4 linked regions of the Homo sapiens genome follow. The protein of the gene in region 1 purifies or fractionates together with the protein of each later gene. This does not show direct contact. Each region holds a gene or a part of one and is shown on either strand. Other genes may lie near its edges. The genes, in order: PABIR1, PPP2R2C, PPP3CA and PPP2R2D.

Region 1 (3,074 bases):
CCTGATTTTGCCTTAAGTTCTTGCCTGAGTGATCTCCCAGCCTGTCTTCTGTCTCCTTTTGGTTCAGTCTTTATACTGCCTCTTGAGTAATCTTTCTGAAATTTAAACTTGATATTTTTCGCCCTCTTGCTTGAAAACTTCACTTGCTTCCCCATTTCCTACTCTTTAAGGAATGATTTCTTTAGCCTCAGATAGAAGGACCTTTATGATCTGGCCATATTCTGAAATAGCTTCAATCCTCTCCTCATCTCTGTTCCAGTATACATCTTTCCTTCTTATTCTGCAAACATTAGACCACTTGATATTCTTTAAATATGTCATGTACTTTTCTTGTGTCTGTTCTTTGGGATAATTCCTATCCTTTTCAGGGAGGCAAATTGCACGTGAGTTTAAGTATGAAGGCAATGTATACCTGCTGATTGTAAAATATTTAAACATTGTACATATCTGTGTGGTTTTAAAAGTCTGCTTTTAATTATGTAAAATTCATCTTCCCTTTCCACAGATAACTTCTGTTAACAACTTGATATCTATTGTACAAGATGTGTTACTGGCATTTCCATGTATATATGTATATAAATGCAGGAAACCAACATGTCATTGACACCTCTCTTCTTTACTTTTCCCCATATCTAATCATTCCTCAAGTCTTACTGATTTTTATCAGCTAGAATCTATCTCCTTATTTCTACCTCTATTGCCACTCTGATCCAGGCTACCAGCATTTCCCTCTTAGGCTTCTGAAGCAACTTCCTAACTCCCACTTGTGCTCCTCACACTCACTCTGGTCGGCTATCCATTCATTCTCCATACAGCAACTAGAGTCATTCTTTTAAAATTGCGGACCTGATCCTTCCATCTCCCAGCTGAACGCTTTTCATTTGCTTCCTGTTCTCATGAGTATGCCAAAATGTATTAATTCTGGGCTAGGAGGCCCTGAGGAATTTGGTCCTTCCCTCCTCCCCCCTCGTTTTCTGTGCTTCGCCCTCACTGGCTTGCCTTTCTTTTCCTTAAATACATCATGTTCTCTCCTATTTTAGATCCTTTTCCCCGAAGGTATGGAAACATTATTTCTGTAAGCTTATTCTTCTATATAGATGGGAAGTTTTTAAATCAGATAAGGTTCTAAGGGCATGTGGACAATTTACGTTATCATAGTATTGTTCATAACGTCCATCATTATTCTGTAGACTGTAAGGGCTTACTTAGCTCGTGTAAGAATTATCCTTCAAAAAGCATTTTTAAGGTATTAGTATTGCTAATCTATAAACTTTGTGCAAGAAGTCCTAAAGTCAATAGCAACATTTATTTAAAGTACAGTTTGTCATACTTAATAAACCTCTGGTATATTTTCCTTTATTATGCTTGTTAAAAACACAGTATAAATGGGAGAAATCATTAAAGATCATTAACTCCAAGGCTGCTGGATGTTAGGACCCTTAAGCATACTTAAAAGATTGATTGTAATCAAGAATAACTTGTATCAGATTGCCTTCCAGTGATTCACATTTATTAGTTCAACCAGTTACATACCTGTAGCAAGAGACCAGTTTATTTGGCAATAAAATTGGGGAAGGAATCAAGACTTAAATGAGGAAAGTGAGTCTGAGAACATTTTTTTTCAGGGTGTGTTTATAGATTAGTAGAACAATTTTGAAGATCTAACAGAGGTGGGAGTCAGGGGAATGGTTGCCAGACAATTGAACCAAGAAGATGATGATCATTTCTTGAGTAGCACCAGAGAACAGAAGAAAGAGTTGGCCTTGGAAAGGAGGTCTGGAAACTTATTTTTCTTCTGAAACAGGAGGGAGAGTGAAAAGGCTAGGCAAAGATATCCATAAATGTTGAATTGATTTGTTGTTGCAGGGGTTTAGGAGTATGGAGGTAGGTATATGAAAAGTAGAATTTGTTTCTGATTGTGCCTATTTTCCAATTATTGAGGAATCTAAGATACATGAGGATAGGGACAGGAGATCATTTGGAAGCTTGAGTGCAGTAAAGGTTTAATGTTGCCTCTGAGAATCTAAAGGAGTAAGTTAAGGACAAGTAGAAGGCTTATTAGGCTATGATGGATGCCAGGTTGCAGTTGGATGGCAGGCACAAGGAAGTGGGTTGGATTGACTAGGTTTGGGAATTGGTTAAGTGGGTACTAGGTAAAGCCCAGTGTGTGAAGTAGTTAAGGGTTCTGCTGAAAGTGTAGTTTGAATGATTGGCTGAGGCATTGAGGATAAGAGAAGGGAGCAGAGGCTTATGGACTAGACCACTTTTTTCAGGGCTTTACCTTATCAGCCATGACAAAGTATAGAGAATCTGGTCTCAATGTAGGTCTCTCACTCCAGCAGTTTTGCCCACATTTTTCATGGCTGTTAGAGAATCAGGGCTGAAGGCAAGCCTTGAGTGCCACTTACTTGGTAAAAAATTGTGTCAGATTGCTCACTGTAGCCAAGACAGAGTTCTTTGTGGCTTCTGTAACTTGCCATCCAAGTAAAAAAATTTTCTTAAAAGTTGAAATGACCTTTGTATAAAAAGTAATAAAATACTTGCTATGTGTCAGGGACTGTTCTAAGTGCTAAGCAAATATATCAATGCATTTAATCTATCACTATCATCTGAGGCAAGTGCTATCATTATCCTCATTTTATAAATGAGGAAATGGAGACACAGGTTGAGTTACTTGCCCAGGATTCCAGAGCTGGGAGGTAGGCAGCGAATTGTGGTGGTTAGGAATATAGACAGTGGAGCAGGGTGGCTGTGGTGAGGATTGAATGGGTTCGTACACAATGTGCTTACAAAGATGCTGGGCAATTAGCATCCTTGATGGATGAAACTCCTGCTTTCACACTCAGTTAACAGTACAATATCCTTCAAAGCAGGCTATCCTTTTATGAAGCGATTGTTTCTGATGTTAGCCTTTCTTATAGTGAACAGACATTTCCCTCTAACTTCCACCATTCAATTCAAGTCCACCTTTGGCAAATGCAAAACAAGCCTTATTCTTCTTTTTATAGGTGATAGCCCCCTTCTAGAAATCAGAAATACTGATCCTTCTCTAATGACTACTTCTTCCTTCCAGA
Region 2 (7,716 bases), on another chromosome or scaffold:
AAAGGTCGTTATTATTTCTCCCTTTACAAAGGGAAAGTGAAGCTCAGGAAGGTGTAGTAACTTGTCCAAGGCTGCACAGCAGTCAGGAGTCAGAGGCAGGACTTTAACATGATTCAAGTCTGACATTCTGACATTCAAATCTGTGACCTTCCCTGTGCTCTGAGCATGAAATATAGTCAGGATGCAACAGTGTGAAAGTGTGTTTTTCATTAGGGAGGCCAGAATTCTACCTATTATAATGATTATTATTGTTTCTTGTTCCGATCCTGCTCTCTGCATCCGCAGCACCTGAGCCCTATGCCCTGCACACACTGGCACTCGGTCTGGACCAGGCACAAGGCCAGGCCTTGGTTTGTTCATCTCAAGGTGGGGATAAGGCGTAGGTGAGCCTTCGTATGAGGTCCCAGCACACAGCAGGTGCTCAGCATCCTTTGGCTGCACGTTAGCAATGCATAGCTCTGAACGGCTCCTTCAACACCGTTGCACCTGCTCCTCACAGAAACCTCCAGACCCTGTAGGCAGGATTCACTCCCATTTTACAGATGGGGAGACTGAGCCCTGGTGAGAAGACAGACCTCAAGGTCATATAGCTCCCTGATAGAATTCAGGCCGCACAAGGGCAGGGAGTCTTTGTCCAGTCCCCAGGGATAAAACAGTGCCCGGCATGCAGCAGGTGCTCGGTAAATATCTCGTGTCTGGATGAAGGATTGGATAGCACTGCTCTGACCTCCAGAACTGTGCCGTCCCCGTTCCTGTGCCCTGCTGAGGGCTGGTGAATTTATGAAAGAAAAGGGGACGGGCAGGGTGCAGAGGGAATTAATGTTTGAAAATGTCCACCATGGCGCTTTTTACGCCTGGTCCCACAACGAGCCCTGCGCCCCATCCCACCGTCATCCCCAACGTAGAGATGAGCAAACAGAGGCTTGCTCCAGGAAGCCAGACCACAGCGAGCCTGGGAGCAGCGGGGCAACCTGCCAAGATCCGCTCTCGGCCCGAGCCAGGCCACCGAGGCACGGGCCAGCAACCCGGCGGCTTCCTCCAACCCTCTGTCGCTGCAGGCTGCGAGCAGAAACCACATCCCGGACCCACGCTGATCCCGACTCAGCCTCGCCGAAGCAGGCGACAAAGGACCGCTCTCAGCTCCCCGGGCCTCCCAAAGCCGCGGCCGGGTCAGAGCCCCACCGGCCCGGAGGCCCGGGCAGCCCTGCCCCTCTCTCGCACACACCCGGCGGCGAAGCGTGCGTGACTCAGCGGTTCTCCCGCCGGGAGCGGGCGCGGCCCCCGCAGCCTCCCTCCGCCCAGGTCCCACGCCCAGCCTCTGCCTCCCGGGCCAGGGCGCCCCGAGCCCGCCCGCGCCCGCGCTCGCGCTGCGCTCCCCGGGCCTCCGCGGGGCTCCGGCTCCGCTCGGCCTCATTTCCGGCAGAGCCAGGCTTCGAGGAGGCGGACCCAGCCGCAGGAGCCCGGTCTCCGCCGCCTGGCCCACTCGGTCTCCCTGACACAGGCACCCACGCGCACCTGCCCCGCGGGACCCGTGCCCAGGGCCCCTCCCACTGGGGCACCCACCCGGGGAATCCGCGCACACTTCTGCGGCCGGGCCGCCAGCCCGTGGGTTAGCGGCTGACAGTCCCCGCACTCGGGCAGGGCTCCAGCACAGGCGGCCCCGAGCCCAGACCTCCCGGTCCCCATCCTCCATCGGGGTCACTCCGCGGGCCCTGCCTGCGCACGGAAGCTGTCCCCACTGTTCCCCTAGCGAGGCAGACCAGGGGGCCCCCGGAAGTTCCAGGCCTGTAAGAGAGGGGCGCTGACCCACCAGCCTCGGGGGTAGGGTGGGGGTGGGGGTTGGGCTTGTAGGGCCAACTTAGGGGATTTTAAACAGGGCCTGTTTGGGATGGCATGTCCCACTTTTTTGGAAAATCCCGACAGTTAGCCCAGCTGCTCCTGTCTCAATATAACTCACCAGGAATAAAAAGGCCAGCCCCAAACCAGCCGCCTTCTCCCTCCCACTCAGGGACCCTGCCTCTGGAGGACAGGGAGGGGCCCGGGCAGGCGGGCCTCCCAGGAGGATCTGGCAATGGATTATGTTTTTTTCCCCCCGGGTCCCTCTTCTTCTCCAGGGAGAGGGCAGCCTAGAAAATTCTGCGGGCTTTGGGCAGGGCTGAAATGGCAAATCCAGGATTTAAACCATTAAATTTCCCCGAGATTTCTTCACCAGATTAGCCACAGCCGTGGCCTTTTAAAAAATTATGGTCAGGGCCGAATCAGGATGCCACCTGGCTTGGGAGAGGAAAGCTGCCTCCCGGAGGGCGGCGCGGAGGAGGGCGCTGCCCTGTGCCGGCGCTGGGCAGCGGAGGCCGGTACCCTCGGGCTCCCTCCCTCCTGGGCCCCGGGCAGGGTGGGATGGGATGGGGTGGGGTGGGGTGGGATGGGGTGGGGTGGGGTGGGGCGGGGGGACACGACACACATCGCGCGGTCCAAACCTTCGGAGGGCATTCGGTGCGACGGCATCCCCACGCCGCGGCCGGCCGGAGGGGTCTCAGACAACACGTACGTTACCTTCAGTCACATAGCTGTGGTCCCGCAGGAAGCTGTGGTTAATTTTCCGCGTGTCCGTGTCCTCGCCCATTGAAGGCCGTGCCCGGTGCTCTGGGCATGCCCCGCCGCCACACACCGATGCAATCCGCAGAGGTCGCGCCGGGCGCGCGGGCCATGCCGCCGCAGCCTAGCAGGGGCGCGGGCCGCCGGGGCCCCGAAGGGAGGGCATCGCGGCAGGGGGACGGGCGGGGGCGGCCGGGGGCGGGCGCCGCGGTCAAGCGAGCGCGCGGTGGGCGGGCGGCGGCCGCGGGTTCGGGCGGGCCGGGGCCCAGGCGCGCATCCCGGCCGGCCCGTGCGCGCTGCGTCCGTGCGCCCGGCGGCGGGGCCTGGTGCCGGTGCGCCTGGCTGCGGCGACGGCGGCGAGGGGACGCGCGCGGCGCTGCGCTGCGCCGACCAAGCCGGGGCCGAGCCGGGCTGCGCGGGCTGGGGCCGCCGCCGCCGCCGCTGTCGCAGGCCCCTCCCTCGCGCCGCCCGCTCTCCGCCCCCGCGGCCCTGCAGGTGGAGCCGGCGCCCAAGCCGAGGCTGCACCGCCGTGCTCGGGCCCTCGCGGTGGGCACCTTGGTGCTGGGTGCGCCACGGGGGAGGGAGGAAGGAGACCGCCAGCTTGCGGGGAGAGGGTGATCAGCTGAGCTTGGGGGGAGGGTACCTTGGGTGCCCAGGTGCTCCAGTTATGGGAGAGAAGGCCAAGAGCCGGGGTGCTGGGAAGGGGGCAGGAGGAGAGCAGCCTCGCAGGCAGAAGGCAGAAAGGACTAGGAAGGAAGGAGTGGGGTCGCAGTTGAAGAGGGCGCACCTGGAGAATGGGGACTCGGGGGAGGGGAAGGACACTGTCTCCCTTCATTAGTAGAAGAGGGTGGGTCGCGCAAGTTCTGGGGCCCGTTGGGAGCATTAAGTACATGTGAAGAAGCTGGTGGAGGGGGTCCAGCAGCCGACAAGGCAAAACTGGATGAAATGGCTGGAGGGGTGATTGGGCCTCCCCCAGGCAGGGCTCTGAGATCTCTCCTCATGCCCACCTCTCCTGACGAGTGAGAAAGTTAAAGAAATACAGAGCTAGGTACCTCCAAAACCAGGCTGGAAAATGCGTCCCCCTCCTCCCTTCCCTCCCTCCCCTCCAAACCCAGGGCTCTGCCAAACAGGAACCTCCCTCTGGTAATCAGCCTGGCACATAGTGGGCCCTCAAAAAATATTTGCCTCCTGTTTTGCCAAGCTGCCACCTCCTCCACCGTGACCCACCGCCTAATGAATCACAGTCCCCTGCACGGGACACAAGCCCCAGTGGGGATTCAGAGGTGTGGGTGAGGAACCATCAGCCCTCCCTAGGAGCTCAACAGAGCCTTCCTGGAAAGCGAGGGACTCTGTGGCTTGCCTGGGAGGGGTAAGTGCAGTGGGGTGACCAGAGCTGCAGGGGCTCTTGGGTCTAAGGCATCAGTGGAGCCATGCTCCAGGTGGGGGCTGGTCTGTAATGGCCTCCACTTGTTTCAAATGGTTCTGGGGGAACTCCAGACAGCTCCCCAAACTGCAGTGGAGGTAGGAGAGTCCAAAGGCGTTGGGGGCAGGGAGACTGGGGCTGTGGGAAAGACGAGGGAAGGTGATGCCGTCTCAGATTTCTTGGAGATTGAGAGGGAGTTTTTGAAGCTACAGCTTTCGTGCCTTTGAAATCCCCAGAATGGACCTATGAGGAGATGAAAGCCCCCCAGCAGCCCCACCAGCACTCTGCAGGCTGTCATGCAAGGGCTGGCCTGGGGAGAGGCCCTGGGGCCCTGCCAGCACCTGCTTTGGCAAGTGCCCTGCCCTGTTCCAGCCTCTACCTTTTCACTGTGGAACAAGCCAAAATCTCCCAGCTGTGCAGACTCCATTCAAGGACCAGGTAAATGCAAGGGCCGGAAGGATGTGCTTGTTCTTTGTCACTTTCTACCCCGTAGGAAAGTGACCGACACCCACATTGGCCCCCACCCACCTGGCATGTTCTCCTCTCTCTCTCTCACCTGTCTGCTCACATGCCCCCCACCTCACATCCTAAGGCCAGCCCCCCACTCTCTGTCCACACCCCCTCACCTCTCTAGCTGGAGCCAGCAAAATGGCTATGCTGGGAGAAAGACAGGCTGGGTTCAAGTCCTGACCACAAGGGGGCCCAGGCACAACCTCATCTGTAAAGTGGATGTGATGGCAGGAGTGGCCCCACTGGGTTGGGGTGGCCAGTCCTGCTCAGCAGGGGTCAGGCCTCCTGGGAGCTCTCTTGTTATCATGCTGAGGCCCACCCTCCCGCATGTTCCTCAGCCTCCCTCTCTGATCATGGAGAAGTCCCCTCTCCCTATCTGTCAATCCTGCCAAAACACCCACCCTATGCTGGCATCAGCCTCATCTCCCGGGATGTCCTGGACTACAATGAAAACAGCCCCACTCTGGCCTGACACAGTACATCATCCCTTTCATCAGCTTCTGAGCCATGCTGGGGACCCTGCAGTGGGTGGTCTTTCCAACCTGACTGGGCCCCAAGGCTTGCATCCATCCCCTCCTCACCCCTCACCACCCCATCCTGCCCCACCCCCACCACAAGCAGTGTCTGGGCTCCTCCACACTGTCTCCTCCATTTCCTGGAAGCCCTCCCCCTCCAGCACAACCGAGGACTCTCCCTCAGCCCCCTGCCCACCCCCCACCTCCACTAAATCACACAATCTGCTGCTTCCTCATCTGTATCTGCACACAGCCCTGCCCCCGCTGACAGAGCCTGAGCTCCAGATCCTGCCACCCCCAGCCTCTCTGTACAGACTCCTCTCTGTACTTTCATTCATTCAATGAGGAATGTTTATTGAGCATCTACTATGTGTAGGCATGTTCCCAGCACTAGGGTAGTGTGGAAGACAGAATAGAGAAATGCTCTGCTCTCGTGGAGCTGGCCTCCCAGTGGGGTGAGATGGACAGCATAAAGTGAGCATGTACTGTGTGGGCCATGACTGGTGCAGAGGAGAAGGCGGGAATGGAGATGGAGATGAACGGGGATGGAGATGGGGATGGAGATGGAGATGAAGGCGGGGATGGAGATGGAGATAGAAAGGAACGGGGAGGAGGAGGTGCCATTTTATAAAGGTGAGTGTAGAGGAAAGCTCAATAAGGTGAAATTTGTCAGCATCTCTCCAGATGCTTCTCACAGCGTAAGCCTGCTTGGGTCTCTTCCACATTCAAAAGCTATCCTCACTCCGTGTCCCTTCAGCCACCAGCACATTGCATTTCTGCCATTCACAACCACAATGCCAAAAGGGTACAGCTACACTCGCCATCTCCTCACTCACTGCCGTGCCCTCCAACCTGGCTTCTTGCCATCCATCCCACCCCAGAAAAGAAACTTGTGTCAGACGGCATGAGAATGACTTTCCTGTTCCTGGAACCAGTGGACGCATGCTGGCCTCTCTCTATGCTGAGTTCTCGTGGTCTCACCCTGTGGACCATGCGCCTCCCTTTACTTCAGTGGCACCACCTTTCGCTGCCACTTCTCAGCAGGTTTACATGCTCCACTCCTTCTGACGGCCCCACCAGGCTATGTCTCCCTGTGCTTCTGTGCCCCCAACTTGTTGTAATTGACAGAGAGAACATGCATGGAAAGTGTGCTGTGCACCGCACCATGTCCCCTCAAGTGCACAGGCTGAAGCCCTAACCCCCAATGTGATGATGTTTGCAGGTGGGGCCTTTGGGAGATTTGGGTTAGACAAGGCCATGAGGGTGGGGTCTTCATGGAGAGATTAGTGCCCCTATAGGAAGAGACCAAAGAGCTTGCCCACTCTCTCCCCAGGTGCTCACGGGAGCACACGGCGAGACAGTGGCCGCCTGCAAACCAGGAAGGGGCCTCACCATGAACCAGATTGGCCAGAACCTTGATGTTGGACTTTCCAGCCTCCAGAACTGGGAGGAAGTACATTTCTGTTGTTTACGCCACTTATCCTATCTTGTTTATTATGGCAGCCCAAGCCGACTGCACAAAAGTTAACTGTTCAGCTTGAAGAACGACCACAAAGTAAACACTCATCTAACCACCAAGTCAGGAAAGGGCGCTAGCCACCTCTCGAGGCCTCCCTCACTCCCCTCTCTCTCCACTTCCATGGACTGAACAGCTGTTGACTCCCAAAATTCATATATTGAAATCCTGTCCCCTAATGTGATGGTTTTAGGAGGTGGGGTCTTTGAGAGGTGATTAGGTCCCAAGGGTGGGGCCCTCATAATGGGATTAGCCGCCTTATAAGAAGAGACGTGAGAGAGTTTGCTTCCCCTCTCTGTCCCTCTCCCTCTCTCTCTGTCATATGAGGACACAACAAGAAGTTGGCTATCCACAAATCAGGAAGCCCTCATCAGACACAGGATCTGCCGGCACTTTGACCTTGGACTTCCCAGCCTCCATTACTGTGAAAAATAGATTGTGGTTTATGCCGTCCAGGCTACAGTATTTTTGTTCTAGCAGTCCAAACTGACTAAGACACCACCCCAAAGATAACCCCCATCTTGACTTTTAACACTGTAGTTTTACTAGTTTACTAGTAAATTGTAAGGTAGGAATGTTTTCATAACTGCTTTCATTTGCACAATGTTTTTTTTCTGAGAAGCACTCATGTTATTTATATATATGTAACTGTAATTTATTCATTTTTCATTGTTGTGTAATATTCTATGGCAGAAATACACTGCAGCTGACCCCACTGTTGTTGGGCACATAGGTTGTTTGTTCAGTGTGGAGGCTAATTATGAACAACAATTCTGTGGCTCAGCATTCATGTGTACACAATTCTGGGAACTGGCTGGGTGCAGCAGTTCATATCACCAGCACTCTGGGAGGCTGAGGCAGGCAGATTGCTTGAGCCCAGGAGTTCAAGACCAGCCGAGGCAACATGGGAGACCCCGTCTCTACTAAAAAAATGCAAAAATTAGCCAGGCATGGTGGTGCATGCTTGTGGTCCGAGCTACTCGGGATGCTGAGGATCACTTGAGCCTTGGAGACAGGGGTTGCAGTGAGCCAGGATGGTGCCACACTGCACTCCAGCCTGGGCCACACAGCAAGATTCTCTTCAAAAGAAATTCTAGGAATTGCTGAGTGATAGGGTCTGTTTGTTTAGCTTTAGTCATGGACGTCAACCAGTTTAC
Region 3 (7,036 bases), on another chromosome or scaffold:
CCTGGCGGTTTGTTGCACCCATCAACCCGTCATCTACATTAGATATTTATACTAATAATATCCTTCCCCTAGCCCCCCACCCCCTGACAGGCCCTGGTGTGTGATGTTCCCCTTCCCTGTGCCCATATGTTCTCTTTGTTCAACTCCCACTTATGAGTGAGAACATGAGGTGTTTGGTTTTCTGTTCTTGTGATACTTTGTTGCATTGGGGCAAAAATAATAGTTCTTATGGATTCCAGCTTCATCCATGTCCCTGCAAAGAACATGAACACATCCTTTTTTATGGCTGCATAGTATTCCATGGTGTATATGTACCACATTTTCTTTCTCCAGTCTATCATTGATGAGCATTTGGGTTGGTTCCAAGTCTTTGCTATTGTAAATAGTGCTGCAATAAACATGCATATACATGTGTCTTTATAGTAGAATGATATATAATCCTTTGGGTATATACCCAGTAATGGGATTGCTGGGTCAAATGGTATTTCTGGTTCTAGATCCTTGAGCAATCGCCACACTGTCTTCCACAATGGTTGAACTAATTTACACTCCCACCAACAGCGTAAAAGCGTTCCTATTTCTCCACATCCTCTCCAGCATCCATTTCCTGACTTTTTAATGATCGCCATTCTAACTGGCATGAGATGGTATCTTATTGTGGTTTTGATTTGCATTTCTCTAATGACCAGTGATGATGAGCATTTTTTCATTGTTTTTTGGCCACATAAATGTCTTCTTTTGAGAAAGAAACTACCACCCTGATTAGTCAGTAACCATCAACATCGAGGCAAGATCCTCCACCAGCAAAAAGATTATGACTAGCTGAAGGCTCAGATGATCATGAGCATTGTTTAGCAATGAAGTATTTTCTGATTAAGGTATGTACATTTGTTTTTTTTTTTTTAGATACAATGCTATTGTACACTTAATAGACTACAGTATAGTGTAAACATAACTTCTATATGCACTGGGAAACCAAAAAAATAATGACTTGCTTTATTGCAATATTTGCTTTATTGTGGTGGTCTAGAATCAAACCCTTAACATCCCCAAGGTACACCTGTATATGTATACATATCTATTTCACATTTATTTACTCACTTATTCATTTATTTATATTTTCATTTTATAAATGCTAGTGAGCCTTTCATTTATATTAAAGAAGTAATACAAACATTATAAATAAATCAAACACATGGACTGATAAATCCTAGCATTATGATGCAAACGTGTTCCAGAGAGCAAGTTCTCTATTCTTACCTGTAGAAGTATGAACACCCCCTGACTGTGTTGTGAGTGAAATGTTCCTGAGTCTTCTCATTTCCAAAATCTTCCAGGGGGTCTGACCACAGGATATCACACATAGGTCCATATGCAGGTGGTTCTTTGAATCGGTCTAACTAAGAAAAATAGAAGACAGAGAGCAAAATACTAATCTTTGGAAACTTAGAATTCTGACAATACAAGAAACAAGCACTGTGCAGAACCCATCCTCTTCTCCCCAGCTACAGCTCAGGGTGAAATGTCCTCTACCTCTCTCTCTCTTCCTGTCCTTCTTCCTACTCGTTTTCCTATCCTTCATCTCTCTCCAATTTTCTTTCCAGCTTCCTTCTGATGAGATCATTTAGTATCTATCTTCATCTAACCCTTTACCTTCCTCTTGCCTCTATTATCTCTAGATTTCGCAGTTTCTCATTTCTCCTATTCTACATTTTATCCTTCTCTCCTTACTTACTTTATCTATCCAAATGTTTTTTTCATGACCAGTTATTATGACTCTACCCCTGTTTCATTTATTGAGAATTACTTTCTTTGGGAAAATTCCTATTACTGCCTCTATTAAACTGTGATTTAGAAGTTTGGATGGAAAACAACTCCTAGTTTTCATGCTTATGTTATTTTTTTATATTTAAGAACATGATTTTGAGAAAAGATGGCTTTTACTTTAAAAGTAGCCACTTGCTATATGATATTTTGGATACTATTTCATTATGGGCTATCTAGGTTTCTAATGATAAACTACAAGCCTCCTGTAGTTGATCTTAGTGGGTACAAATATGAGTAATGATAAGCAGTAAAATAAACTCAACTTTAGCGGGTCATTCTTCAGTTCACAGTTCTAAGCTTTATAATTTTACCTGAAGCCTTCATATGAAATCAATTTTCCAGCTATAAATGTTTAGTGAAGTCACATTTCAATTTTAAAAGGTGCATTTAGAAGGCATATTAGAAATATCATCACTGGAAATAACATATCACGATCAATTTTAAACACTTTAGTTTATCCTGATTTAACTGCAATTAAAGGATCTTTGGTGAATCAGCAGATATTATAAAGGCTCTTGAATAAAAGCATGCAATAGCTTTGAAAATCTATTAAGAATTGATATTCTTCATATTGATATTTTTAAAAATCCAATGAAGACAAGTGAACATATTTTGCTTACAACTAATCAAATTGTCTATTTTTTTTTTCTGGGACATACAAGATGTAAGTAATGGTTTTGTTGCACACTACTTTTTATTAGTATCTATAGAGAATGAGGCAATATTTTATGTTTTCAATACCCAATGAAAAACTTCAATAAAACAAGACTACATTTCAACCATTATGTTAGCCACAAAATATTCATTGCAAACTTAAACTTGTTTAAGAGATTTAAATAATTTATGCTCTTGGAACAATACATTCAAGAAAAATAATACTTGTCCCTAAAAATACAGAACTTCTTTCTGAAAAACAATAACTTATTAAGGGTAGGACAGTAGAGGAGGGGAAAGTTTCTGATTAATATGAATCCCCAACTAAAGGTCTGCAAAGCTACCAGAATATAACATTTATTCTGGAAAAAGTATACAGTGCATTCTAAAAGTTAATATAATTGACAGTAAAAATAAACAAATACAAAAAAACTTGATATATGGCAAGATAAAAACTTAAAAATCATTTTCTGGCCATGTGCAGAGCTTAATGATATGTATGAAAATTGAATATAATATCTAAAATATCCTGGGAAGTAAGTCCTAGGGATATTAGGTGATATTTTAAAAAATCTACTTAATTTACGATGTGAAGTTTATTTACTTAAAAAAAATCCATCAGATTACAGAATGAGCTAGTTATATTCATGCAGAAAGAAACATTTCTGTTTTTGAGACGGAGTCTCCCTGTGTCACTCAGGCTGGAGTGCAGTGGCACGATCTCGGCTCACAGCAACCTCCACCTCCCAGGTTCAAGAAATTCTCCTGCCTCAGACTCCTGAGTAGCTGGGATTACAGGCGCGCGCCACCATGCCTGGCTAATTTTTGTATTTTCAGTAGAGATGGGGTTTCAACATGTTGGTCAAGCCGGTCTCGAACTCCTGACCTCATGATCCACTTGCCTCGGCCTCCCAAAGTGCTGGGATTACAGGCGTGAGGCACCATGCTTGGCCCAGAAAGAAACAATTTTATACTGAACCAGCATCACATCTCTACTGTACTTTAAATATAGAGCAAAGACCAATGCTCTATGCTCTATAGAAGTGTGAAATAGTGTCTTGCAAAAATGGACACAAAGACACAGAGCAGGAAACAAGGTTTATTTATTGTGCTTTCGCTTGAATTTTAAAATAAAAAGCATGCATTTTCTTTCCAATAGGAAAGTAAACACATTATTTTTATACTTGAACACTTGAACCTCAATGATAGGAAGAACTTGAATGTTTTATTTTACCTGAAAATAATTTTTCTCTAAAAACTAATGAACTTTAAAAGAATATTGAGTTCATGGTAGTAGAGACTTATGGTATGCAAATACATTCATAATTTACTAAAGTATTTCCTCAAAACCATGAGTTTCATTAACAAAAGTATTAAAGAAACACTACAAATGAGAGCTATATGAAAATGGTTATTCATTTTGTAGTAGAGGTTTACAACCTTTTTGCTGGTGATTGCGTCTTAAACAAAATAGTACAATAGCCTTATCCTTTCTATTTATTCTCTACAGTATAGAACTCTATTCAGTGTATCAGTTTTGTTCAAATAATTAAAACACTATTTTGAGGGAAGTTTTCACTAATCCCCCTTTGAAGGAGGACACTTAGTAAGTTTCTCATCTTCCATCCAAGGCCATGAAATTTGATCAAGGCAAGAGAATAAAACATAAATGCATGTCTTTCATGCCCATCATTTGCTAACAGAAACTACTATACTTATTTGTAATTTGACTTTTCATTTTCCAAACCTATTTCAATAAGTGGTTATCAGGTTAATATGATACATGGATACATGAATAGATAAAATATTTGCTTTCCTTCTCCACTGAACACAATGGGAAAACACTGTTTACTAATTTAATAACTTATGGCAGCTGATAGAATTAACTTGCAAATGTTCATCATATAGACTTCTCAGACTTAGCAATCAAGTTTCCAAACTCAGAAGAAATGGAAAAAAACAATTAAATGGCAATCAATCAAACAAGTGACACCAAGGGAGTCTTTGTATGAATGCCCCTAATGATAAGCAAGATCTAGAATTTGAACTGTGCCCATGGTTATTCTTAAGTGAACCTATAACTTAAGAAATAAATTCTGTACACCTTGAGATTAGTGCATCACTTATTTGAAGCCAAAGTCTACCTATCATACATTAGGCTTAAATATATACTGAGTAGTATGTATCTTTAGAAGAAATCTCAGCAAAATTCCAATCTTTATAGTTCAAATACAGTAATTTAGAACAATGTGACCAATTTATTCTTGCTAAAATTACTGGTGAGAATAATAATAAAAGGTTAGAATTATTTTCACCCCTCTGTTCTATGGGATAAGTACAAGCGTATTTTCTTAGGTCTCTAAAAGTAGAGGAAAGAAGATAAATACAGTTTTCAACTGTTTATAATTCCTCCAGAAAAAATTTGGCTTAGATTTCCTAGATAGAAAGCTTAATGGTGGGCACAAATTTTCAATAACATATGTTATAAATATCAATGTGAAGAAATTATCATACTTTAAAATAATTCCAAGTAATATTATTTTAAAATGACCTAAGAAAACATTTACATCACTTTCTCCCTTTGGTCCGATTTTGGCACCAAGAAAAATACACTGCGATTTTTTATTACTCTCTATCTTTTACATCATTGCAATCAGAGTTAGAAACATACCAAAGAAATAAAAGATTGTCTATCTATTGTACTACATAAAACTATCCCATGTTACTAGATTTACTCAAGAAAGAGACACAATCCACTTCCACATTCAATGTAACTCATCTTTTTGCTGGTTTAAACAACTGTTAATAGCCAATGCTAAACTGGAGTATTTCTTAAAAACTTCTTACAAATACTTCTTAAAAAGTCCAGTTTTTCACTCAGCCACTCAGTAAAATTAATAAAATATTATCACTGTCCTTGTTAGATTGCTACTTAAAAGTCTCAAGTTGTAACAAATAGATTTTTAAAAAACCATAAAATGAGCACAGTTTAATGGTTATGTTATGATATTTTCCCAAGGGCAAAGCAACATTTCTAGCATAACACATCATGAATATACAACGGATTGTTTGAAAAAAGCCAAATGGAAATGATAAGGCATATTTTTTTTAGAGGTCAAATATTTTATATTTCCAAAGACACATGTCAGATGGTAAGACCAACCCTGAGGTTGTAGAGATAAAAATTCTTCCAAGTATAAACATATCTCTCTTTCTAGATAAAAATTTAACACAAAGGAGCGATTCATGACCACTTTAAATTATTTGAACTCAAAAGAATAAAGTCAGTGATAAAGGCAGGGTAATTAATGTCTTCTATTTATTACTGTAGCGCACAAAATGATTAGACTTGGAAAATAACAAAACTTACTTTTCTGATATCATCTAAAGTGTTAATCTCTGGAGACAAACCACCATGCACACACAGGAACTGTTGGTTCATCAGGGCAGCCAGGGGAAGGCAGTCAAAGGCATCCATACAGGCATCATATACGCGTTCTGAATACTTTATTTTACCTTTTAGAAGTGATTAAAAGAATACTTATGATTTATAGGCAGGATCATTTCACTGAAATAGTTTTGGTTTTTTGAGAAGTTTTCTTGCTAGGACCCTATTATTAACATAAAGGCACATACTACAAAATTCCAAAACATAATTAAGATTTTCTGAAAGTAACATATTAATCTTTTATATCTAGTATTTCCTGTTTTTGTCATTTATTAATTCATACTTTATAATTTTCATAACGTTTTGTATAGCAAGAGAATTTTTATATACATTCTGGCTATTTATCTGCAGACGTCTCACCAAAAAAATGTACATGAACAACTGGAAGACCAATAGAAAAACAGCCATAAAGCTGCTTGATATTCCTTAACGATTTTGTAGAAAAGCAGATGGCAAGACATTTCCTAAAGCTGTTTCTATCTTACTGCACATTGCTTTTCCCATGACTTATATCTAATGTTTTAAGAGGAGAAGTCTTTATGCTCCATTGAATATAGGACTAAATGAAAGAGAAAAATATTGATATGTATAGAGAGATTCCCAGCTCTTCCATTTAACTGTATTTATACATAAAACAAAAATGTAAGGTTTTATACCTTTGTAAGATTCAGTGAATAATAAGAAAAATTGTAAGGAGGAAAAAGAAATTGAAAAAAGCACTCCACACTCCTAGTGTCTATGTCTAAAGAATGACATCATCTTCAGTTTTATAAGATTCACTAGAAGCTAGTATTCATTTATTGGGTCCAAAACAGAGGCATAGGGTTGAATTTGCCCTCCATTTGCGTTTTTTGAGTAATGTGAGATTAATGAGTAGAATTATTGTTCCAAACAGTAGCATCCCTAAATCACTTGTTTCTTAGGATAAATTACATCAAATCTTAATTCAAATTCTTCAATCACTTTATAAAGAAGTTCTAATTTAAAAAGAAATTCTGAATTCTCATAAATGTCCATGCTTAGAAAGAAATATAGGATAATATGAAAGAGTGTCACTTTAAGTCTTTGACTTTAGGCAATAGATCATATTGTATGTATCTTATTATT
Region 4 (7,036 bases), on another chromosome or scaffold:
TCTGAGGAGACACCCAGGCTCTGGGCAGAAGTGACCCCGCTTCTCGGTGGTGCCAAAAGCACACTCACCCTACAGCCATAAGCCTGTGGGAAGCATGACCTCGAGTTCCACTTATTAGCAGCAGCCTCTGACACAGCCACACTCGGACGGCCCCAGCAAAGGAGGGCTCCCCAGTTGTGCAAAGGCACTTGGGGAACAGGAAGAACTCTCTAAGTCTTTGGAGTGTCTGAAGAACAAGTGGCTCTAAATGAGATGCTTTAAAAGACGCCAGGCGTGACCAGGTGCGGTGACTCACACCTGTAATCCCAGCACTTTGGGAGGCCGAGGTAGGGGGATCACCTGAGGTCAGACCAGTCTGGTCAACATGGTGAAACCCTGTCTGTACTAAAAATACAAAAACTAGCTGGGCATGGTGGCACCTGCCTGTGGTCCCAGCTACTCGGGAGGCCGAGGCAGAAGACTTGCTGGAACCCGGGAGGCGGAGCTTGCCGTGAGCCGAGACTGTGTCACTGCACCGCAGCCTGGGTGACAGAGCCAGACTCCATCTCAACAACAGACGCACTTACACTTGGAGTGTCTGTCGCACAGGGCCGAGGAGCGCATGTCACACAGGCGGATGGTCCCTTTGCTACTGCTGTAGACGAACACGTTGCACTGGTGCGGGTGGAACTCGGCTGCAGTGATGACTTCGGTCAGCTCCTCCATGTTAGCAGGCTTGATGTCCACGATGTCTGGGAGTGCATGGTTAAGGCACAGTGCTCAGCTCAGCTGGTTGTTAATTAGTCTACATTCAGTCACGCGAAATAGGACGCCAAATAATCCACGCAGTGAGGTTTAAGGGATTAGCTATTAAGAAGGCTGGTTACACATCCCGAATTCCAAAGGAGCGCCTGGTAAGGGGATTGGGATGAGCACACTCAGACTACAGCAACGCCCCGGCCCAGGGGGAGACACAGACAAGCGAACACCGCTTTCATCTTGCTGCTATTATTAATGTTATACAGAAAGCCCTTAATAGCAAGATAGTACATACTTAATCATATAAATAGGAAAACCAAGCTAGTACCATCTGTGCAAAATCCCACACTCCCACACAAAACTACAACACAAGAATGCCGCCAAATTCCAAAAGATGCTGCTCTTCCTGACATGAAGAGCTTATTCTGTGTAGCTAGAACAGATCCAACAGAAATCCTATACAGAAATCCTTCAACTGAAAAAAATAAGAAAGGGCAGAATTCAGCTGTGGGCCAATTCAGACTAGCAGTCCCAGTTTCACCCTTCAAGCTGAAACAACTAAGAAAACCAACATACGACATGGAACCCCAGCTCAAGCCACTGGACAGCAGAGGGAGGACGGCAGGGACCCTGGAGAGGCTGCAGACGAAGCAAGCCCCATGCTCCCGGCTGCTGGCTGGAAAGGGGCCCATGTGAGGAGGGCTGGGGCCACCCAGACTGTGCACAGCCACAGAAGAACACAGGTTCTAACTGGAAGCTGCTGCTCAGATGGGTGATTAAACACTGCTCTAACCTAAGCCAGTATTTTCTATTATTCATTAGCAAATTTAGAAAAAAAAAAAGAACACATAATGTTGGTTTTTCAAATGTAGCCTATTTAAAACTGCCTCTGATTAAACCAGGCAGGCAGTGGACTTCAGGTAATTCCCATTATACAGATAACTTTTTCCCAAAGGTAGAAAGAAATTTGTATTTTTAGGGACAAACATTTCAAATCACAGAGAACTTACATCACAGGCTGCTGTGCAGTGATGGTATTTACAAGACTAGACTCCGAGATACAGGTGTATAAAGGGACGAGAGAAATTACTATCTAAAGAGCACCCTCGGGAAGACGCCAGTGTCCCTCTGAGGAAGGATACTAAAGCTTCTATCTGTGATTTCTAAGTGCCATAAATTAATTCTCAGGTCATCTGCAGAAAGATATGTTTCATGATCACTATTTACTGAAATGGAATTTATATGATATGTGTGAGCATTTGCAAAAATTCGCCGTGGACTCGCTTCTACCATAAGATCCATGGGCTTCAATATTGGGACCTAAAAATGGAAGGAAATAGGAATTCAAAACAAAGATCACAGCAGCACATAATTAGAACACTTATAGTAGATAACGAAAGAGGACAAGTTTATATTCATGGCTAAGTAATAATTCTGTACAGGCAATACCCCCAAATAACCAATTAGCAGAGTTATGAAAATATGCTACAAAATGGAATACTGTCTATTCCAAGTCTTCCCCTTGCTTCCATTACCGAGGTCGACATGTTCCTGCTGAAGAGAAGATCAGCTGGCAGGGTAACAAACTGCCCAGGCACCGAGGCCTGCGGCTCCCTCTCCTGTGTGTCCTCCAGTGGCCACACTGAGGCGCTGGACAGCAAAGTCCTCCTGGGTGGCTCAGCTGCACCCCTCCCTTTGTCCTCTCCTTGCAGCTAGATGCACACACCTCTTCTCACTGCACTAGGACTATGCTTCTCGGTGCAAACCCCACAAACCTCCACTGGCTCCAGGTACTGGCAGGGTGCACAGCAGGGTGCTGGGGAGCTGAGGATATTCCATTTCTTGGTCTGGGGCTGGCTACATGGGCATGTGCACCCTACAAACATTCATGGAGCTGGTCACTTATAGGGCAGATGTCTTATCTGGAGGTATGTATTATATATTACACTTCACTTGAGGTTAAAACAAAAAGTAGAAGGTACCTCCCGCCCCCATCTCTGTGTTGAGTGCTGTGGTCAGGGAGGCTTCCTAGGGAAGCCCAATTCGCACAGAAATAGAAAGGACAGAGAGGAGTGGGCGCTGGCTGCAGGCCGCCTATGGTCAGAGGTGAGAGCTCAGGCGTGAGGAATAGCATCACACATGAAAAAAGGAAAAAGGCCTGTGTCTCACTAACATCCAGCTGGAAGAAAAACATAAGCTTTAAAATCAAAACAAAAAATTAATGATAGTATTTTTTGTTATTCTTGTAATTAGAAACCAAAAGGGAGAGCCTTGAAAGCTTAGGGGAAAAAGAAAAGCTCTCAACTGAGTCTTGTCTGGCTGAATTCTGTAAAAAACCAACTTGGAAAAGTGTGTGTAGGGAGGCTTCCCTCATTTTAACCCAGGTAGTGCTGACCACACCCTTGGATTCTCTAGAGCAAGAAGAGTCAGTTCTACCAAGTTCAGGCTTAAAAACACACACCTACCCCAATCCTCTAACAAATTTCCCATTAATCAAAACATATGATAGCTGCAATACTTACAAAGATTCCTTCTTTTATTGAAAACATTTTAATTTGCATATAAAATAATTTGCTTTCATTTTTAGAGATGGGGTCTGGCTATGTTGCCCAGGCTGGTCTTTGAACTCCTGGGCTCAAGTGATCCTCCCATCTCGGTCTCCCAAAGTGCTGGGATTACAGGTATGAGCCACCATACCTGGCCAAGATTTCTTCTTTTAATTATATCCCTTTTCTGGCACTAAAATAATTTAAGAGCAAAAATTTAAAAACAGCAACATGTCTGACTCTTACCCAGTTAGGCTCAGATACATAAATAGCCCACTCTGAACTGTTAGAGAGGTAAGATCTCAAATACCGACCTAAGTCAATGTACAGAATTACCTGTCTGTGGTCTCTTCCCCATGCACCAACTAATGAAATAACTAGACTTCTCACACACCTTCAGTAGGGCCACCAATTATACCCGTTTTATTTAGGCTAAACCTACAAAAGCAGCCTTGAATAAAACCAAGACTGGGCCTAGTAAAGGCCTACTGTTCTCCCAAAATGAGCACGTGAGCTGATGGGTTGTGGCAGGGTCTGATCAGGAGGAACAGGGGTTTCTGAGGGTGGGGTGTGCACAGGTAACTGGGTGGGAGGTGGTGTTGGCTGCAGAAGAGATGGACAAGGCTGGAGGGGGTCAAGTGCCCACCCTCGGGGGTCCCATCACACTTCTACTTTAGGATCAGCAGTTTCATGATGATGGAACTGCACAACTCGTGTTACTGTCACTAAAAGTGATTTACACTAATTCAGGGGTGCAAAGGCGGCAGCACTGTGTATCAGACATCACCAACATTTTGGATCAAAACATCTTGGTTCAAATTAGGACCCTATAAACTAGATTTTCAGCAAATGCCACAGCCTTTCTCGCTTTGATGAACTCATAGGAAATACGGTGACAACATCGATGTGAGAAGTCTGAGGACACTCCTCCTGAGGAATGCACAACCCCAGGTGTAGCCACCCCACACGGCAAAGCTGGAGAAATGGCATCAGAACAGACCCAACATCACTCCCAGAGGCACATGTGTTAGGGAAAGGCTTCTGCGGTACAGCGTCCTCTGTAGCACTCTCCAAGACTAATGTGGAATGGGCTCACTCACTCAGTCTTCACTTGATAAACAATAGTGTAAAAGGGGCTGAAATCTCATTAAAAACCAACCAAACCACCCAACTCAACCACCCACCCCCCGCAACCAAACCACCCAACCACCCAAACAACCAACGGTTTTCCAATCTAGTAACGGCACCCCCTTGGGACCAGGCAGAGTTTCCTTCCAGGGGACACACCTCTGCACAGGTGCTGGTTTCTCACCAAGACACACCTGGGCTCGAGCCCAGTTTGCCGGACACCCTTCACCATGTTCCATCTAATTTAAGACAACATCAGTGGTGCGTAGCACCAGGCCAATTATAAGACATTGAGGTTTTGAGTTTTAGCCGGTTTCATAAATGTTAAAATATGAAAAAATTTAGGCATCAGAATTGATGAAATATGATCATTTCATACTACCAACAATGGAGCAAATAATTTAACAATTAAAAAAGTAATGATGCTCATGGATGGACAGGTGGAGAGTTCTGAACCATCAGCATCTGCCTAAACCAACCCCAAAGAAATTCCCCGAGAAGCGTCCTGAATGTACCTGTGGCCCACAGCTCATCTTTCGACCTGCAACCTGTGCTACTGCACCTGTGAGGTGTTCTGAATTTCATCTGAACTCCAACCTCCCAGGTGCTGTTCTGAACCTTCTGAGAGAAGGGTGGTTGCTATGTCCACAAAGATTTCTGCTGTAGAATTAAATATGAGTTTTCCCCTTAGTATTGCTGTGTTTCCTAAGGACCACATGTGACTTTCTGCCTTTGTGAAAACAGGAGAAAGACCTTGCTTTTAAACACACACATGAGTGCAAACGACTTTCAGGAATCACGAGGCAGACCTCACAGCAGACCTCACAGTACTCCACCGCGCAGCACTCTCCAGACAGCAGACTGAAACGTTTATTCTTAACTTCTCAACAGCATTGGATAAAGCAAAGGCAACGTGTACCCGTAGCGCCGTGATCCTAAATGGGTCTCGAAGTCTTCCATCTTCGTCTTTCAGGTTATAACCTTCTGCTCTTTTATCCCGTTCACTTATTTTCCATAATTTTATAGTTTTATCTGAAAATAAAAACCTCATTCTCCATATGAAAAGAAAAACTATAACATGCATCACTACTGTTTGAGTACTGGTATTAGAAAGCGGTGTGGTCCTATATTGGGTTATAAGCTATGGGGTCTCTGAACATGAATATTTCCAATTGGAGGTGTTTTGTACAATAAAGAAAGATGTGCAGACGTGCAGAGTAACAGCATAATAAAGTGCACGTGTGGTTTTTGTTGCATACTTTGAATTTTCAACCTATCACTTGCTACCCTAGATAACTTACCCTCCCCCCAAAATTTAAAGCAGGAATAACTTCTAAAATAAAAAGGAATCTACACACACACAGAAAATTAAAAATAAAAAACTAAATCAAACAGCCACTTAGAACACAATTCTTACCATTTGTAGACAGTAGAAAATGAGCAGCATTCTGTTGTGGTAACCACCTAATTTTATTAATTTTTTCCTCAATTTCTAGACTTTTCAAATAGTCAAACTCCGGTTCATGACTTTGAAAGGTGCTGTAAACATTATATTCTCCCCTAGAATGAGGGCGGCTTTTATTCTGCAAGGAAACATGAGAGCTGTTTTAATGAACAAAGCACAGTGTAGAGAAAATTTCAGTACTATAAATTTGAATATCAAATGACCATACATATTTTTTAAAGCTAAAAAATCCTGGCTCAAAAAAATCTCAGATGAAACTCAGGGAAAAAAAAAAAAAAAAGAACGAACTTGATTTCCGACTCTTCGACTCCACTTCTAGGTATGCATCTGGAGCAGGTCTGCCGAATGCAGCCTTGCTGTATTTTCTGGAGCAGGTCTGTCAAATGCAGCCTGCCGTATTTTCTGAAGCAGGCCTGCCGAATGCAGCCTGCCGTATTTTCTGGAGCAGGTCTGCCGAATTCAGCCTGTCGAATGTAGCCTGCTGTGTTTTCTGGAGCAGGTCTGCTGAATGCAGCCTGCCGTATTTTCTGAAGCAGGTCTGCCAAACGCAGCCTGCCGTGTTCTCTGGAGCAGGTCTGCCAAATACAGCCTGCCGTATTTTCTGGAGCAGGTCTGCCGAATGCAGCCTGCCGTGTTTTCTGGAGCAGGTCTGCCGAATGCAGCCTGCCGTGTTTTCTGGAGCAGGTCTGCCGAATGCAGCCTGCCGTGTTTTCTGGAGCAGGTCTGCCGAATGCAGCCTGCCGTGTTTTCTGGAGCAGGTCTGCCGAATGCAGCCTGCCGTGTTTTCTGGAGCAGGTCTGCCGAATGCAGCCTGCCGTGTTTTCTGGAGCAGGTCTGCCGAATGCAGCCTGCCGTGTTTTCTGGAGCAGGTCTGCCGAATGCAGCCTGCCGTGTTTTCTGGAGCAGGTCTGCCGAATGCAGCCTGCCGTGTTTTCTGGAGCAGGTCTGCCGAATGCAGCCTGCCGTGTTTTCTGGAGCAGGTCTGCCGAATGCAGCCTGCCGTGTTTTCTGGAGCAGGTCTGCCGAATGCAGCCTGCCGTGTTTTCTGGAGCAGGTCTGCTGAATGCAGCCTGCCGTATTTAAGGCAAGTGTTAGTGGAACACAGTCAGGCCCATGTGTGCACATACTGTCTCTGGCTGCTTCTGCACCATCTGGGTAG

Evidence for each region.
Region 2: the proteins of PABIR1 (region 1) and PPP2R2C purify together in Homo sapiens (affinity purification with mass spectrometry; 4 studies listed by BioGRID and IntAct, with this or other methods). This does not show direct contact.
Region 3: the proteins of PABIR1 (region 1) and PPP3CA purify together in Homo sapiens (affinity purification with mass spectrometry; 3 studies listed by BioGRID and IntAct, with this or other methods). This does not show direct contact.
Region 4: the proteins of PABIR1 (region 1) and PPP2R2D purify together in Homo sapiens (affinity purification with mass spectrometry; 4 studies listed by BioGRID and IntAct, with this or other methods). This does not show direct contact.

Annotation. Positions count from the first base shown.
Region 1 is NC_000009.12:68,783,010-68,786,083, forward strand, and holds the end of PABIR1 (PPP2R1A-PPP2R2A-interacting phosphatase regulator 1), read left to right. Parts: 3' UTR 1-2,557; downstream 2,558-3,074. UniProt on the Homo sapiens protein: Acts as an inhibitor of serine/threonine-protein phosphatase 2A (PP2A) activity. Inhibits PP2A activity by blocking the substrate binding site on PPP2R2A and the active site of PPP2CA.
Region 2 is NC_000004.12:6,469,607-6,477,322, forward strand, and holds the start of PPP2R2C (protein phosphatase 2, regulatory subunit B, gamma), read right to left. Parts: upstream 3,009-7,716; 5' UTR 2,624-3,008; coding exon 2,554-2,623; exon of another isoform or gene 2,506-2,553; coding exon of another isoform or gene 2,478-2,505; intron 1-2,477. UniProt on the Homo sapiens protein: The B regulatory subunit might modulate substrate selectivity and catalytic activity, and might also direct the localization of the catalytic enzyme to a particular subcellular compartment.
Region 3 is NC_000004.12:101,092,516-101,099,551, forward strand, and holds part of PPP3CA (protein phosphatase 3 catalytic subunit alpha), read right to left. Parts: intron 5,998-7,036; coding exon 5,852-5,997; intron 1,401-5,851; coding exon 1,261-1,400; intron 1-1,260. UniProt on the Homo sapiens protein: Calcium-dependent, calmodulin-stimulated protein phosphatase which plays an essential role in the transduction of intracellular Ca(2+)-mediated signals. Many of the substrates contain a PxIxIT motif and/or a LxVP motif.
Region 4 is NC_000010.11:131,938,990-131,946,025, reverse strand, and holds part of PPP2R2D (serine/threonine-protein phosphatase 2A 55 kDa regulatory subunit B delta isoform), read right to left. Parts: intron 5,996-7,036; coding exon 5,830-5,995; intron 5,445-5,829; coding exon 5,332-5,444; intron 5,259-5,331; exon of another isoform or gene 5,234-5,258; intron 2,059-5,233; coding exon 1,881-2,058; intron 732-1,880; coding exon 567-731; intron 1-566. UniProt on the Homo sapiens protein: Substrate-recognition subunit of protein phosphatase 2A (PP2A) that plays a key role in cell cycle by controlling mitosis entry and exit. Involved in chromosome clustering during late mitosis by mediating dephosphorylation of MKI67.